Linked DNA regions of Homo sapiens. The protein of the gene in region 2 interacts with the protein of the main gene of each other region in a biochemical or structural test. Each region holds a gene or a part of one and is shown on either strand. Other genes may lie near its edges.

Region 1 (3,721 bases), on a different chromosome or scaffold from region 2:
TCTCTCTCTCTCTCTCTCTCTTTCTCTCTCTCTCTCTCTCTTCTTTTCTTTCATTGTGGTTACAGGGTCTTGCTCTTTCCAGCCAGAGTGTGGTGGCATGATCATGGCTCACTGCAGCCTCAACCTCCTAGGCTCAAGCTATCCTCCTCCCTTACCCACCCAAGTAACTGGGACTACAGGTGTGTGCCACCACACCTAGATAATTTTTGTATTTTTTTTTTTTTTTTTTTGTAGAGATAGAGGTTTCGCTTTGTTGCTCAGGCTGGTCTCGAACTCCCAGACTCAAGGGATCTGCCCACCTTGGCCTCCCAAATTGCTAAGATTACACAGTAGCATGAGCTGCTGTGCCCAGAAATTTATTTCCACTTAATAGCATAACAGAAATTTTCTGTGTAATTACAAACATTGGAACTTTTTTTCACATCTACCCAATATTTCAATTAGGTAAATATACCTTAATCAATTAACCCTATTGGTCAATATTCAGATTACTTTTATGCTTACATTATTTCAAAGAAGAATGCAATAAACACTTTTCTGTAGAACGCGTTTTATTTAGAACGCCATCCTTGGGCTAGATTGGCGGAAGTTGGAGGCGTCATGCAGCGCCTCCTGCCTGGGAGCCAGGCGATCCGCCAGGTTCTGGGAGGACCTAAGGTCAACAGCCACGCCTGCTCTCTGGGCTCACAGTCAGCAGCCGCTACCAGGAGAGCAAGTCCTCAGAAGGCCCGAGACCAGGGCCCGGGAGCGCCCACAAGGACGGGAGGTCACCCAGTGACAAACAGGGAAGGGCAGCAGGTGCGCCCAGGAACCCAGAGGCTCCCAGAGCAGAAGTGGGATGCAGGGGTGGGGGCGGGTCATGCTGAGGTTCAACAGGGACCTGCTTCCTGGTTCAACAGGGAGCTGGCCAGAGAGAGGGATCTGCTGAGGCTTCTGTTTAAAAACCCTGGCCTGGGTGTGGGTGCAAGTGGATTTGCAGGTGCAGTGAGGCAGCGGCCGGAGCAGGCTGTTGCACGAAGACCCAGGAAAGTCAGGGTGGTTTGATCCAGGCAGAAGAGGGGGAAATGGAGCCTGGGGCAGACGTAAAGGTGCTGGGGTGAGGATAAGGGTGACAGGAGGGAGGAGTCTGGGGTGACCAAGGCCTGCAGCTCAGGTGACTGGGAAAAAACATAAAACAGAACACAGATGAATGCAGGGGTCGGGACGAAGGCTCCTGTGAGTCTGAAGTGACTGTGAGTGGCACCCTCTGGCCAGCCACAGTGGCTCTCACAGCTCATTCTGCAGAGCACCGGCCCAGTGATGAGCCGAGGAAGTGCCCCTGGAGGTCAGCTGGATCTGCCCAGTGGTCTGCACAGGGGGCGGCTGCCAGGGGCCTGAGCACAGGGAAACCCTCGAAACTGTGGGAGGGATGAAGCCAGAGAGGTAGACCCCAGAACCGACCAAGCCCAGCATGGGGCGTGGAGGGCGGCCAAGCTCAAGAAGACCATGAGATTGGAGAAGGAGCTGCAGAGAGGTGGAAGGCAGACAGGCGAAGGACTCACGAGCACGTCCAACAGCCGTCCTAAGGGCCGGCTGGAGGGAAAGAGACCTGAAGACACGTTGGGGGGCGGGGCCGGGCAGGGGCGGGGCCAGGCCGGGCAGGGGCGGGACGGGGGCGCCGGAGGGCAGGGCTTGGAGAATTCTCACCTGAGTGGAAGAGCAGAGGGAGGAGGTGGGTGGGTGGCAGCGGTTTCCAGGCAGCAGCTACAGGGGACTGAGGGCCACACCCCGAATGCCCTAGCCCAGGGGGCACAAGTTTCAAACGTACACACCCAGTGGGGCTATCTGCCTCTTTACAGCTTTATCTCAATTAGTAGGAAAGTTTTCTCATAAACGTTCTGCGTTTCCGTCGTGCCACTGGTCTGCGTCCTCGGTCTCTCTGGGGCCTCAGGTCTGTGCGCTGCACACGGGCTGAACCTCTGGATCATGATGCACTTCCTAACACTGGGCAGCTATTTCTCTGCTTGTTGGCTCTGTGAAGACGTGTTTTTTACGGACAGCACTTTCTAATGTTTATGTAGTAAGTTTGTGTATACTTCCCTTAGCTCACTAAGGAACCTTCAACTGTTGTCTTCCTGGTGTTGCACGAATCCTGGGCTCAGACAGAGGGACCCCGGCCATGCTGACCCCTGCCTGGGAGGCGGGCTCACCCAGGAGGGCCTGGGAGGGAACATTGCCGGGCATCTGCAGTCACCTAAGCACATAGTGAAAAAGTCACCTATTTTCTTCTGGCTTTCTCTGGAGAATTTTTTAAATATCCATTTTAAGATCTAAGTAGATTGTTTTTCTTTTCCTTTTTCTGAGACGGAGTCTCCCTCTGTCGCCCAGGCTGGAGTGCAGTGGTGCAATCTTGGCTCACTGCAACCTCCGCCTCCCAGGTTCAAGCGATTCTCATGCCTTAGCCTCCTGAGTAGCTGGGATTACAGGTGTGCGCCAGGACACCTAGCTAATTTTTGTATTTTTTGTGGAGATGGGGTTTCACCATGTTGGCCAAGCTGGTCTCAAACTCCTGACCTCAGGTGATACGCCCCGGCTCGGCCTCCCAAAGTGTTGGGATTACAAGCGTGAGCCACCGTGCCCGGCCAGATTGTTCTTCAAGGAGTTCATGCCCCCACTACACACTGACCTGAGCCGTGCTGGCCCCCAGTCCGTGCACGTGGAAAGGACACCCCATTGCACAGCCTCGGATTCCTCTGTGGCCAATCGAGTGTATCTAGGGAGAATTCCCAAGGGTGCTTCTAGATACGGCACCTCAGATAAGGCCCCAGAGCAGCACCGCAGGGACCCCCGGCACAATTTCGGAAAGAGCTAAAAGGGTGAGATTGCCACAACACTCCCGCCACTGGGGACTCTGTCCCTACCACAATGGGCAGCCCCTGGGCACCTGGCCCCATGTCTTAGCACCCTCTAGAAACAGCCAATGTCACACCAAGCAGAGAGTTTATTGAGGCCATGGGCAGGGCCCAGGAACACAGCACGGGGCGTGCGTGGGGTGGATGCACGCTGGACTGCAGGGGTGCGCTAGCAGCGGCAAGCGGAGGGGTATTGGGGGCCCAGGAGGGCCCCCCCTCCTAGCAGCGTCTAGGGGCTTCAGGTGAGCATCAAGAACCACTCCTAGCCTCCGCAGGGCTCTTTTGGGAACCCCTCCCTGCTTCCCCCTGAGCTCCATGTGGGGTGGGGCTGGGGCGAGGGGGCCCCTCTTGTCCCTGTGGTCAAGGATGGGATGATCCCTTGAGATTCACTATAAAAATTAAAATTCCCTTATAAATCGCAGGGGAGTGGCAGGAGGGCATCACTTGGAAGCCGACATTACCTGTCCCTAGAGCCGCACCTCCTCCACACCCCCGAAGTTCTGACCCCAAAGTGAAGAATAGAGGATAAGGTTTGCAGGCACAGAGAGGGGCAGAGACACCAGGAGAGAGAAAAGGGAGACTGGGAAGGGAAGGAGGAGGACAACACAGAGAAAGAACGGATCTGAGGAAAAGCAGGGGCACGGGGGCTCCACTCCCCCGCAGCCCCAACAGCTGCGCCCTGGGGACCGAGGACGAGAGTTCCCAGCCCGCAGACCCCCACAAGCGTAAGGTCCCATGTCCCCCCAATCCAGTCCTTGCCAAAGCCATGGTGGCCTCTTGAGACATCCTCAGCCCCAGCTGCGCCTGGAGCAGACGGCCAGGAGACAGAG
Region 2 (7,035 bases):
GTGCCAGGTAAGGACAGCCACCTTCCTGGGAAGAAGAGGTGACCCCGGGTCTGGTGGATTTCCCACAGGGGCCGTCAGAGGATGTCCACAGAGGCAGAGCCCTTGGGGCCTGTGGGCTGGGTTGGGCTGGTGGATGTGGGGCCTGGGACTTCTCCAGAAGCTTACTTCCTGCTGCATGCTTTGCCGACTGTCCTTCCACCTCTAAGTGTCCATCGTGCCTGTGGGGGCTGCTGCAGGCTCCTGCTCCGTCAGCCCACCTGCTGCTGCGCTGCTCTGGGAGCGAGCTCCCTCATGGCATCTGGAACGCTCTCCTGTCCTCCCTGTGCTCAGGGCTGGAGAGAGGGTGGCGGGGCTGCGGGCTCCCCGGGCCTTCTGGGCCCAGCCCTGCCACCTGGGCCCACCTCCTCTCACTGTCTCTGGCTCACGCTTCCCGGGCCTGGAGCTGGGACCTGCCCATAGGCATCTGAAGACACGTCAGCCTCAGCCGGGGGGAGCCCTTGCTTGACGCTCTCTGGCCTCCGGGCTGCCTCTCGCGCCCGCTCTGGGCCCGCTCTTCTTCTCATGATGTCTTTCCTTTCACCTCCTGCGTTGTCTGACATCGTCGCTCTCTTCATAAATTGTAGCGTTTTATGTTTTCGTTCATAGGAGTGTTTTATTTGATTTTTCTTTATTTTAAATTATTACATTTAAGTTCTTTTTATTTTATGCTCTAGGTTTTGAAGTTTTTCTAATTTCTTAATTTTTTTGTTGTTTTTTGTTTTGTTTTGTTTTTGTTTTTATGTACTGTATTTTCAGTGTTTTAACCAAACAGTTGTGGCTACTCATGGTGAGGAATGACCGCTAAGAGTTTGGGTTCTTTCAGTGCATTTGGAGGTCACTGCTACACGTTGATGTTTAGGAGGTTGAGAGGTTTGCCTTTAGGTAAGTTGTGGCCAGGGGGAGTGTCCCATGGGTAAGTGGTGGCCCTGTAGGGTGACGGAGAGCTAGGGGAGGCGCAATCAGACTGCAGAATTCCCCGCAGCCACCATGAGGGTCAGGAGCAGGCCGGGGACCCAGCGTGGAGGAAGGTGGCCCAGAAGCGTTTGTCTGATGTGCACAGCTACACCCTGCCTGGCCACATGGGGTTCCCTGTTTTCTCTCTGCCGGGTGGTGGCAGAGTCGGTGAGACACCAGGTGCCTGTGACACATTGGGTAGACAGGTTCTTTGAGAACGTCAGCACAGACTTCTTGCATGAGCGGTACTCGCTTCCTCCAGCGTGGGGAGTGACATGAAGAGCAAGGGTTTTCCTTTCAAACTGGGCATAGCTGCAGAGCCACAGGCCGTCTCAGACATTTCTACAAAGCCACTCCGGGAGGCGGGCTGCGCCCGTGTGAGGGCTCTCCCTCGGCACTGCTCATCTTTTGGGGCTGGACATGCATGGCCTGGGCCGCTGGGACGCGGTGGGTGTGGAGCAGCATCCCTGGCTTCCACCCACGAAAGCCAGGAGCACCCCCTTCATTTGTGACCACAAAAATGTCTCTGGACTTTGCAAGCATCCCCTCGGGGCAGTCAGCCCAACTGAGAATAGCTACTATAGAGGAAGGTGTGTCATTTTGAGATTCCTTCTAGAGAAACTTAGGAGCCTGGTAGATGAAGCAGAAATGTGTCCTCTGAGTGAGTGGCCGTGTCCGGTACTGAGAGGCCCCGTGCCCTGAGTCTGGCGGTGACCAGAGAGGCTGGGCAGAGGCAGAGGTCAGCACTGGCCATGACTTCTGGAAGTCCCGTCTGCCCTGGTCACTTAAAGGCCAGTATAAGTCAGCTGTGGAGAGGGCTGGATACCCCCTCGACAGCTCCTCCCTGGGTGAGATCCTTAGCATTAGAGTCCCCCACGGTGCGCCCTCTGAGAGACCACGGGAACCCACCCAGCGGCTGCCTGGGACAGGCACAGGAGCCACCTGGGTGCCTCTGAGGCCTTGCACTTTCCCACACCTCAAGGAGGGCCGGGGGCCACGGGCAAGCTCTGCCATAGCGGGTGATCAGGTCAGCTAAGACGAGAACGTTTGGGGCTCTTTTTCTCCAGCTGGTTCAGTATCTTTGTTAGGAAAGACCATTGGAAAGAATGTTTGTTTCGCATTCCGCATTAGTCACATAGAATGCGCTCCTCCCTAGCGAGCTTCCTGAGGTAGACGGCTGGTTGCGGTTTCTCGTAATCCGGGCTGCCCCCACCCTCCAGAATGTCTTGGTGGCGTCCCTTTCTGTGAGCAGGGATTGTGGTTTCTTTGCGCTTGCTCATGTTCAGGGGTGAGCTCTGGTCCAGTCAAGCCACAGGGTCAGCACCTTCTGGTCACTCCCTGGCCCTGACCTGAGCCCGGGGAGGAACGTGGGGCAGGCGCGGGTGGGCCCAGCCTCGAGCTCTTCAGCACAGTGATGGTGACGGGGCAGCGGTGGCGGCACAGCCAGCCCTTCTTGGGTCCCCAGTCAGAGCCCTCTGCCCTACCTGGGCTGGACTTGTTTCTGAACAGCCACAAGCTACAGGGGGCTGCCGCTGTGTCCCTGGCGAGGCACTGGCCCATTACAAGCAATCGTCTGGGGAGGGCACCAGTGGAAAGCCCCGTTCCAAGCCATTTCAGGAGGGTGGCCCTGCTTCCGAGGAGCCGGAGTCAGTGGCCGGATAAGCAGAGCCACTCGGGAGTGGTGAGGCCCGGAAGGGTTAGCCCGGTGGGCGGCAGAGGAGCTCTGGCCCGCAGGGTGTCGGGCGAGGCAAAGTGCAAAGCATTGGTGCGCGGGGCCTCAGGCAGCCACGGCGGAGCCGCAGGCCAGGGACCTGCAGTGACTCGCTCTCCCTCCTCCCTGTGTTTGGCCTTAGTGTCCACAGGATGAAATGTCCGAGTCAGGCCAGTCCTCGGCGGCCGCCACACCCAGCACCACAGGCACCAAGTCCAACACGCCCACATCCTCCGTGCCCTCGGCCGCCGTCACACCCCTCAACGAGAGCCTGCAGCCCCTGGGGGACTATGGCGTGGGCTCCAAGAACAGCAAGCGTGCCCGGGAGAAGCGCGACAGCCGCAACATGGAAGTACAGGTCACCCAGGAGATGCGCAACGTCAGTATAGGTGGGTGCCCACCTCCGGGACTCTGGGCTCCCTCGGGCAGGAGGCAGGGCTTGGTTTGGGTAGATGTGAAACTAATGCACCAGGCGGGCAGTGCAGGCAGCAGAGACGTGTTCCTCACAGCCCGGAGGCTGGGGTCCAAGATCAAGGCGCTGGCAGGGTAGGTTCCTCCTGCGGCCACTCCTTGGCTTGTAGACACCACCTTCTCCCTGTGTCCTCAACAGGCATCCCCTGGGTGTGTCTGTGTCCTCATCTCCAGCTCCTACAAGGACATAGCCCCATTGGATTAGAGCCACCACGTGACCTCATTTTACCATAATCACCTCTTGAAAGGCCCAGCCTCCAAATACAGTCATGCTAGGGGGTATCTATTAACATATGGATTTGGGGAGACACAACTAAGGCAGTAGCCTGCGTCACCCCACGGCACACAGCCCCACTAACCAGTAACCTGCATCGCCCCACGGCACACAGCCCCACTAACCAGTAACCTGCATCGCCCCACGGCACACAGCCCCACTAACCAGTAACCTGCATCGCCCCACGGCACACAGTCCCACTAACCAGTAGCCTACGTCACCCCATGGCACACAGCCCCACTAACCAGTAACCTGCGTTGCCCCACGGCACACAGGCCAGTGAGGGAAAGAGAAGAGGGGAATGAGGGCCGAGAGGAGGTCCAGCCACTGGCTTGCTTGGACGTGGGATCTCTGGGGACTGGGCTTACTGCTGACACTCCCATGCAGAGAGGCTGCTGCAACCCACCCCGCTCCAGGCCCCGCCTCAGACGTCTACTGTGCTGGGGTTCGACCTCTGCCCAGTCAGCCTGGGAAGAGCTGTTTTCTGATCATCCCCACCTAGCAGGTGGTCCAGCTCCAGCCCACCAGACTCAGGTTCCGAGGGCAGCCGTGAGCAGGGCAGAGGCTGCCAGACCCTCTCCTGACCCCAGGTGCCCCTGTGCTCTCCCCTAGGCATGGGCAGCAGTGACGAGTGGTCTGATGTTCAAGACATTATTGACTCCACGCCAGAGCTGGACATGTGTCCAGAGACCCGCCTGGACCGCACAGGAAGCAGGTACTGGCTCAGCCCAGGCCCTGGGGTCCTGGGGGCTCAGTATTTATCCAAGTCGGTGTCTTTGGTGAAGTCTTCCTCTGCCACCACTGGGAGAACCATCAAGGCTGTGGCCTACCGCCTCCATCCACGACCGGCCTGCAGGGCAGTGTGGGCATTGAATGGCCACGGTGGGAGGTGTTGGAAGAGTCTGCAGACGCAGCCACTCCGGGCTGCCCACTGACTCTGCTCTCTCTCCCGACCTGTGGATCCCAACAGCCCAACCCAGGGCATCGTGAACAAAGCTTTCGGCATCAACACCGACTCCCTGTACCATGAGCTGTCGACGGCAGGGTCTGAGGTCATCGGGGATGTGGACGAAGGGGCCGACCTCCTAGGTAAGCGCAAGCCTTCCCCCGCACCGCTGTGCCTGCACAATGCTGGGGCTTTCTGCTGTTGGTTTTGTTTGTAATGAAAGGAAAGTCCTCTGTCAGCTGTGAGCTAGGAACCTTTTTTTTTCCAGCTTTGTTGAGTTGCGTTTCACATGGAATTGTCCCTCCATCTCCACAGGGGATTGGTTTCTGGACTGCCCCAAGGATGCCAAAATCTGAGGCTTCTCAAGTCCCTGCTCTGAAGTGGTGTAGTGTTTGCACCCTCCCGTGTACTCTAAATCACCTCTAGGTTATGTTGTAGATGCTGTGTAAGTAGTTGCTGTTATGCTGTGTCGTTTAGGGAATAATGACAGGAAAAAAGTGTACACGTCAGTACAGACACGGCCACCACAGGCCTGTACATTTTCTGTGAGGCTGGTTGAATCCACACATGCAGAACTCGTGGGTATTGAGGGTCGACTGTATCATAAAATTCACCCGCTTCGAGTGCACGGTGCGGTGGGTTACAGCGTACTCACAGGTGGGGCAGCCACCCCCATGATCTCAGTTTAGAATGTTCCGCCATCCCTAAAAGAAATCCATGCCTGTTAGCCTCGCCCCATCTTCTGCACACACCCTCAGGGCTGCCAACTCTCCAGGAGGTTGGGAGGGTGCCCGCTTCTCTGCTCTGTGCCCATTAGCCTCGCCGCACACCCTAGGACCATTGACTTTGGAGGAGGTTGGGAGGGTGCCCACTTGCCCACTCCTCCGCAGACAGCCCTGGCTTCACCTCAGCGCCACAGGTCTACACCGGACCCCTGTGCCTAGGTCTGTGGCGGCTGCAAACATCAGGACCTGCTTCCTGTCAGCACGTGGAGTCTCCTGTGCTCATGGCATCTGCTGGCAGCTGAGCACTGGCCATGTGGCTCTGAGCCCCAGGCTTTCAGGCATGACAGGCGGGCAGTAGGACAGCGCAGTCTGTCCCCTTGCACGCGTCAGGGTCCGAGCCTTTCGCCATGGCCTTGCTTCCCCCAGCCCGCAGGGTGAGAAGCTCCTGGATCCCAGGCTGCCTCCTGGTGTACTCCTGAGCTGATTGTCTTATCTGGGGCAGGGGGACCTCCAGGGAGCAGAGTAATGTGGGGTGCTGAGCACCAGCAGGGCCTCACCCTGACAGGGAGGCCTGTCTCATCCTGGCTTGAGTCAGAAAGTGCCCCAGTAGAGGCCATGTATGAGTAACATAATATTCACCATGTTAACCGAGTTGAAGTGTTCAGTTCAGTAGTGTTGGACACACTGTACTTGGTGGTGAAAGATGGAATGCTCCCCGAGATCAGGACGGCGGTGAGGGCGCACTTTGGTGCTGTGAATTTTCTGTGGAACTTTTCTCATGTGTTGCAAAAATATATATAAAAAATCCAAAGGAGATTAATCTTCAGAAAAATCCTGCTAAATAGGGGTAATCTCTTTTAATATTTTGCTATCCTTCCACTCTACATAATTCAGATAATGTTTATTTATTTATTTATTTATTTATTTCTTAGACAAAGTCCCGCTCTGTCGCCAGGCTGGAATGCAGTGGCGCCATCTTGGCTCACTGCAACCTCCGCCTCCCAGGTTCAAGCAATTCTCCTGTCTCCGCCTCCCAAGTAGCTGGAATTAGAGGCACGCGCCACCACGCCCGGCTAATTTTTGTATTTTTAGTGCAGACGGGGTTTCACAATATTTGCCAGGCTGGTCTTGAACTCCTGACCTCCGGTGATCCACCCGCCTCAGGCTCCCAAAGTACTGGGATTACAAGTGTGAGCCACCATGCCCGGCCGATAATGTATATTTTTTAGCTATTTTTTTTATTTTTTGAAAAAATTATATATGCTTATAATAATATTTAAATAATATCAGCAAATGCCAAGAAGAGAGTAAAAACCAGAGGGAACCTCCCCACCATGCTATAATGATTTTTTTTTTTTTTGAGACGGAGTCCCACTTTGTGGGCCAGGCTGGAGTGCAGTGGTGCGATCTCGGCTCACTGCAACCTCTGCCTTCCCGGGTTGAAGCAATTCTCCTGCCTCAGCCTCGTGAGTAGCTGTGATTACAGGCATGCACCACCATGCCCAGGTAATTTTTGTATTTTTAGTAGAGATGGGGTTTCACAGTGTTGGTCAGGCTGGTTTTGATCTCCTGACCTTGTGATCCACCCGCCTCGGCCTCCCAGAGTGCTGGGATTACAGGCGTGAGCCACCACTCCTGGCCGATTGTTTTAATGTCTTGGTGACACCTACCAGACACCATGGCCCATGGCCCACAGAGGTATGACACATGTGTACGCAGAACACACAGTGTCAGGTCGCAGCTGCCCTTCTCATTGTGGGCGGTGTCATTTCCGTGGGTGGCAGCACTGACGGGCACGGCCACCGTCGGTCCTTACTGCAGCATCAAGCCGCCCTCCTGCCAGTGTCCCCATTTATAGATGAAGAAACTGAGGCCGGGCACAGTGGCTCATGCCCGTAATCCCAGCACTTTGGGA
Region 3 (7,035 bases), on a different chromosome or scaffold from region 2:
CTCCCTAAGGGCTGGGATTACAGGCATGAGCCACTGCGCCCAGCCACATCTTTTAAATCAAAACATTTAGTTGGCCCCTAACCTAGAGGAGATGTGAGGGAGGATTTTGGTAAGCCTTTTGAAATAGCATGCTGTCAACTAAACTGTGTTCTCCCCAAATTCCTATGTTAAAGCCCTAACCCCCAGTGTAATGGTATTTAGAGATGAAACCTTTGGGAGGTGATCAGGATAAGATGAGCTCGAAAGTGTGGGGCCCTCATGATGGGATTAGTGCCCTCATAAAAAGAGACACCAGAGAGCTTACTCCCTCTCTCTCTGTACCATATGAGAACACAAAGAGATGGCAGCAGTCTGCAAGCCAGAAAGAAGGCCCTCCCCAGAACCGGACCCTGCTGGTACCCTGATCTCGGACTTCCAGAACTATGAGAAAATAAATGTTAAGCCATCCAGCCCGTGGTATTTGTTACAGTAGCCCAAGCAGATGAAGACAGAGGGGAAATGCAGGTTTGCTGGTGCTACGCAAAAAACTGTTTCAGTAGTCTTAGGATGGGGATTCGAACGAGACACACAAATGTGCACCTCTCTAGTATTCTGATTATGTACATGAACATGTCTGGCATCATACAGGTATTTAAAAAACGTTAGTTCCAAATGCAATGTGGAACACTGGACTAGGTCCTAGCACAGAAAAGAGATACTAGTGGAAGGCCTGGTGACATCCAACCAAGTCTGTGTTTCAGTTAACAGTAAAGTGTTGATGTTAATATCTTAGTTCTGACCACTGTTCTATGATTATGGACGATCAGGGGAGACTGGGTTATGGGCACATCAATTTTCTTCTCTAACTTTTCAACTTTTCAATCAATTTAAAATTATTCCATTGGAAACTTGAGAGGAGGGTAAAATTTTTAAAATTAAAAATAAGTAAAATAAAATAATTCCAAAATTTAGAAATTTTCTTTAAAAAGAAGTTAACTGAAGCCGGTCGTGGTGGCTCACGCCTGTAATCCCAGCACTTTGGGAGGCCGAGGCGGGGGGATGACCTGAGGTCAGGAGTGGCCAACATGGTGAAACCCCATCTCTACTTAAAATACAAAAATTAGCCAGTCGTGGCGGTACGCACCTGTAATCCCAGCTACTTGGAAGGCTGAGAAGGGAGAATCGCTTGAACCCAGGAGGTGGAGGCTGCAGTGAGCCAAGATCGCGCCATTGCACTCCAGCCTGGGGTACAAAAGCGAGACTTCGTCTCAAAAAAAAAGTAAAAAAAAAAATAAAAAGAAGTTAACTGGCTGGGCGCAGTGGCTCACACCTGTAATCCCAGCACTTTGGGAGGCCGAGGCAGGCAGATCACAAGGTCAGGAGATCAAGACCATCCTGGCTAACGCAATGAAACCCTATCTCTACTAAAAATACAAAAAATTGGCCAGGCGTGGTGGCACACACCTGTAGTCCCAGCTACTCGGGAGGCTGAGGCAGGAGAATCGCTGGAGCCCGGGAGGTGGAGGTTGCAGTGAGCCAAGATCGTGCCACTGCACTCCAGCCTGGGTGACAGAGTGAGACTCCATCTCAAAAAAAAAAAAAAAAAAAGTTAACTGAATCAGAAATAAATGTTGAATGAAAAATAACTGAGACTAGGATAAACATCCAAATAGAGCCAACAGAGAAAGAAGGCTGGGCATGGTGGCTCCCACCTGGAATACCAGCACTTTGGGAGGCTGAGGTGGGCAGATCACTTGAGGCCAGGAGTTCAAGACCAGCCTGGCCAAAACAGTGAAACCTCATCTCTACTAAAAAAAAAAAAAAAAAAAAAAAAAACTTAGCTGGGCATGGTGTCACACACCTGTAATCCCAGCTACTCCAGAGGCTGAGGCAGGAGAATCACATGAACCCGGGAGATGGAGGTTGCAGTAAGCCAAGATTGTGCCATTGCACTCCAGCCTGAGTGACAGAGCGAGACTCCTTGTAAAAAAAAGAAGAAGAAGAAAACCAAGATCGTTTCTTCCCCTGCAGATACAGAAAGATAAGCTGGCAAGGGAAGCCAAGGGGAGGATGAGAGAGGCGGCAAGAGAGCCAGGTGGTGTCCAGAGGGCCAGGGGAGTTTCAAAGAGAATGGCAATGCCAAGAGCACCCACCCTAAGGGGCAGAGAGGTTGCCCAGAGTCCAAATTCAGACGGCCAGATTGGACCACTGCTAGACCAGCAGCTGATGGCATGGAAGCCAAGCTACAGAGGGGCAAGGAAGCTCCAGAGCCTAAGCTGGGGCAGACCTCGGGACAGACCTCGGGGCAGACCTTGTTGAAGGTAATGGTGTCTCTCTGGATTGTGGCTTATATTTACAAAACATTTTTGCATGTTCTAATGTTCTAATATGTTCTAATATGAAAAGAATATGGCAAACAGAACCTCTATGACTTTCCCAGTGACTCCATTTTAAACATTAGCACCACATTTGCTACAGAGCCACTCACGGATGGGGAAATGTCGTCATCATATTTTTTTAGCTGATTCATAAACTCCAGATGCTTCTTCTCCTCCTCCAGTTGAGCCACAGACTGCTCACTCTTCTGCAGTTTCTGCTGCGTGTTGGCCAGTTCATCCCGTAGCCACTGATTCTCCTGGCACAGACGACGAACCTGCGCACGCAGTTTCTGCTTCTCGGACTCCACAGCATTCAGGTGATTTGACAAAGCCATCATAACCTGAGCAGACAGAAACGTGTGCAGCACTGTGGCACGTTGTCCAGCAAGAGTCCCTCCCACCCGTGCGAACATTCTGTGGCTGGGGCTGTAGCTTACACTCGCAGATATTTTCTCCAAAGTACATATAAGTACAATCTGCCATTTACTTCTCTTTTCCCCTTCAGCCACAGACTACAAAGCAGGGTATGATAAAGAATATCACACGCTCAGAATGCCTACAAAAAAATACTTATTTTTTTGAAGAGCATGCCAAATGAACTAGCAATGAAAACACAGCTACCCTTCTGATGAAACTGTATTATTTTACTTTCTATCAAGATGGGCCCAACATAATTTTTTATAGACCCTTTCCCATGTGTAAGACCTCGTGTACACACATGCATGTCTGCGCACAGAGTGCATGTTGGTGAAGGGCTGCAAGTGGGGGTCAGAGAACAGTGCACATACAAATCTTCCTTGATGTTCCAAGGTGAGAGAAGACATCTCTGTAGCTACCACCAAGAGTAAGAATGCACTGGTGCACTCATAAGCTTATGTTTATGTCATAAAATCCAGGGGCCACTCCAGGGCTCTGCCTACAGAGTGCTCACTGGTTTCTGGAACAGACCAGCGTGAGGCTGTGGCAAGTTCCTAGGAGCATAAGAGCACAAACAGCTAGGAGCTGGCTGGCAGCAATCTGTTCTCTCTTTAGAACATACATCTGCCCATCCCTCTCATAACATAATAACCAGGTTATTATCCTCCTAGGTTTAAAACCTGAAACTCCAGAAGGTGGGACCTTTTCTTCCTTCTTTTTTTAAAACTCTTATCTGCGACACCAAAAAAGCAAGTTTAAATTCATGTCACCTGTTCTCAAGGTAACAGAACTTGAGAAATAATACGTTCACAATATCCAAACAGAGCTACAGTTCTGCAACTCAAGGCTGTAACATGGTTAGGATGAAGACTCTAAAATCAGGGTGTGGGCAGTCACTTCCTCTATGAAAGCAGAAACCGCTGGCCAGCAGCCCCTCTTCTGCTCTATTCACTCACTAAACTAGAGAATGCTAAGAAAGAAGCAAAGCTTTGGTATATTTAATTTTACCTAAGATATGCTGACAGAGCCAGAAGTTATCAGGAGAGAGTATTTAAAAACCTAGATGTTTCCAGTGTTTTCATCTCTATGTCAAGCATGATATTATAGAAACAAAGGTTAGTCAAAGATATGAAGCAATCTGGCCCTGGGATTGCAGAGACCATCACCCACTGGCCAGTGTCCATTCTCCTTCCTTAGGCTTAAGGACCTGCCACTGTAAGTGGGAAGACAACATTCCCCAGTCTCCCACTCACCCAGGTACAGCCATAAGGTCTGGCCAATGCAATGTAAGCACTGCTGTACACATCATCAAAGCAGCAGCCTTCAAGGAAGGAGGCACGTCCTTCCTTTCCCTTCCCCTATGCTAGAACAGGGCCACATGGAGCTCACTCTCAGTCCCCAAGACAGGCTGCCAAGGTGCAGTGTGGCAGATGTTAGGAACCTGAGTATCCCCGATGACTGTGTAGCTACAGAACCCGTCCAGGAGAGTGTACCTCAGTACTTATTTGACAAACATCTTGTGGTTTAAGCCACTGTTTTTGTTTTTTTGATACTGGCAGCCAAATCAAATCCTAAATGATACACAGCAGTATCCACTATTTTGGATCCGCTTTTCAAAATTCAGAGAGGCCCTGAGGTCAGGAGTTCAAGACCAGCCTGGCCAACATTTTAGTTTCTACTAAAAATACAAAAAATTAGCCAGGAATGGTGGTATGTGCCTGTAATCCCAGCTACTTGGGAGGCTGAGGCAGGAGAATCACTTGAACCCGGGGGACAGAGGTTGCAGTGATCTGAGATTGAGCCATTGCACTCCAGCCTGGGCGGCGAGAGCAAACACTGTCTCAAAAAAATAAAAATAAAAATAAAATTCAGAGGCCGGGCATGGTGGCTCGCGCCTGTAATCCCAACACTTTGCTGAGGCAGGTGGATCACGTGAGGTTGGGAGTTCAAGACCAGCCTAACCAACATGGAGAAACCCTGTCTCTACTAAAAATACAAAATTAGCCAGGTGTGGTGGCCCATGCCTGTAATCCCAGCTACTTGGGAGGCTGAGGCAGGAGAATCATTTGAGCCCAGGAGGCAGAGGATGCAGTGAGCCGAGACTGCATCACTGCACTCCAGCCTGGGCAGCAAGAGCAAAACTCCATCTCAATCAATCAATCAATACAATTCTGATAGGCCCAAATCAATAGTAATTTATTAACATACAGAACACATGATCTGTTTTGTTTTGTTTTTTCTTTGAGAAAAAGTCTCGCTCTGTCACCCAGGCTGGAGTGCAGTGATGCAATTTTGGCTCCCTGCAACCTCTGCCTCCCAGGTTCAAGTGATTCTCCTGCCTCAAGCCTGCCTAGTAGCTGGATTACACACGCCAGCCACCAGGCCCGGCTAATTTTTGTATTTTTAGTAGAGTCAGGGTTTCGCTATGTTGGCCAGGCTGGTCTCAAACTCCTGACCTCAAGTGATCCACCTGCCTCAGCCTCCCAAAGTGCTTGGATTACAGGCCTGAGCCACACCGCACTCGGCCTGGATCTGTTATTCTATAATCATCTTTCCTCTTCTTTAGTGAAACTGCTTATTTCAAACAAGTCTCCATTTTACCATCAAAAGTTCCTGATAACGTCTGAGTCATTCTCACTCGTACCTGTGCCTCACTCAGGCCGAGCTCCAACATCTCCAGTGACTTCCGGATCATGTTTGATTTCTCCTCCACCAAATTACTTTCATCATCTTTCTTCAAACACTTCAGTGTCTCCAGCAAACTTTGTAAAATGGAATTGTGCTCATTCTTCAAAGCTTCCAGCCCCTGAATTACTTGCTTTGTCTTAGAAATAATTTCATCCTGTGTAAGCTTCTCCAACTTGTCTTCCTTTATGTACACCATTGTGGACATGTTGTCATACATTCTGGAATGAAAAAAGAAAAAGAAATTAGATCCCTCATTACAGGTTTCATTTCTGTTACATCAAGTAAATATGAAAATTTTTTAATTAACATTTTATAGGGGAATAATAAATATGCACATTTGTAATTTATGACCTTGAAATACCATATTCTGCAGTTTCTGTTTTTCCTTTGCAGACACATTTAATTACTTTTCTGGTTTATGTCTTAATTCTTTTTTATGACAGCAACTGAAATTAATGCCAAAGATTAAAAGCAGCAAAACATCTAAATGGCATTTCCAAAACACATAGCCTCGGTGAACAACATTTTTTCTCAGAATGTTTGCAAGCCTTTTTCTCTTCCTAATGAAATGCAGGAAGAACACTACATTCTTGGTAAAATGTTTAACTGGACAAAGGCTTGAAAAGGAGTCACACAGCTGGAAGAAGAAAGAAAAACCAGCCAAAGAACATGGAACAGGAAGAGCAGCAGGGGAGGAGCAGACCTGGAAGACACAGGGCATCAAGGACAGGTGCAGCACGGTCACCGGGCAGGCTCACAGATGAGGATGGCACAGCGAAGCACCACCAGGGCCAGGCCCAGGGTGATGTGATGCAATGTCTGGAAGGGGCTTTCAAACACCAAAGTGAGAAAGAAAAGGGGGAGGAAAGGGGAATATAAAAACAGCATCATTTGTGCTGTTGTGCCTGACAGCCGCTGTCACTGAGCAATGGTTCCCTCTGCTAGCCTCTCTCCTTTTTTCTAAGTCTTAAAAACCCATAGTTAAGTTTAAAAAACAGAAAGATAGTGAGCAGTGATCTTTTTCGGCACAGTGACAGGGATGGAGGCAAGATTACACGTCAGAGTTATTTCCTTCACAGCACTGCCACTGTCTAAAATCTCACGATTCATTAAGTGTCTAATGTCACCTTGAATATAAGCTCTTATTTAAAAAGGCAGGACAGCCAGGCATGGTGGCTCATTCCTATAATTCCAGCACTTTGGGAGGCCAAGGCAGGCGGATCACTTGATGGCAGGAGTTCAAAACCAGCCGGCCAACACGGCGAAACCCTGTCTCAACTAAAAATACAAAAATTAGGTGAGTGTGCTGGCACACGCCTGTGGTCCCAGCTACTCAGGGGGCTGAGGCACGAGAATCACTTGAGCCCGGGAGGCAGAGGTTGCAGTGAGCCAAGATCTCACTACTGCACTCCAGCCTGGGTGACAGAGCGAGACTCTGCCTAAATAAATAAATAAAAATAAATGAAGTAAAATTAGCTGGGTGGTATGTGCAGGTATTCCTTGCTACCCAGGAGGCTCAGTGAGGCACAAGGATCGCTTGAGTCCAGGAATTTGAGGTGACAGTCAGCTATGA

Evidence for each region. The genes of interacting proteins can lie anywhere in the genome.
Region 1: the proteins of MAPK8IP3 (region 2) and MAPK8IP2 form a complex in vitro, tested with the Homo sapiens proteins (one study listed by BioGRID).
Region 3: the proteins of MAPK8IP3 (region 2) and KLC1 form a complex in vitro, tested with the Homo sapiens proteins (one study listed by BioGRID).

The regions. Positions count from the first base shown.
Region 1 is NC_000022.11:50,610,791-50,614,511, reverse strand, and holds the end of MAPK8IP2 (C-Jun-amino-terminal kinase-interacting protein 2), read right to left. Parts: 3' UTR 534-3,721; downstream 1-533. UniProt on the Homo sapiens protein: The JNK-interacting protein (JIP) group of scaffold proteins selectively mediates JNK signaling by aggregating specific components of the MAPK cascade to form a functional JNK signaling module.
Region 2 is NC_000016.10:1,744,183-1,751,217, forward strand, and holds part of MAPK8IP3 (C-Jun-amino-terminal kinase-interacting protein 3), read left to right. Parts: exon of another isoform or gene 1-2,407; coding exon of another isoform or gene 2,408-2,674; intron 2,675-2,846; coding exon 2,847-3,093; intron 3,094-4,061; coding exon 4,062-4,164; intron 4,165-4,419; coding exon 4,420-4,538; intron 4,539-7,035.
Region 3 is NC_000014.9:103,653,209-103,660,243, reverse strand, and holds part of KLC1 (kinesin light chain 1), read right to left. Parts: intron 5,681-7,035; 5' UTR 5,680-5,680; coding exon 5,419-5,679; intron 2,699-5,418; coding exon 2,468-2,698; intron 1-2,467. UniProt on the Homo sapiens protein: Kinesin is a microtubule-associated force-producing protein that may play a role in organelle transport. The light chain may function in coupling of cargo to the heavy chain or in the modulation of its ATPase activity.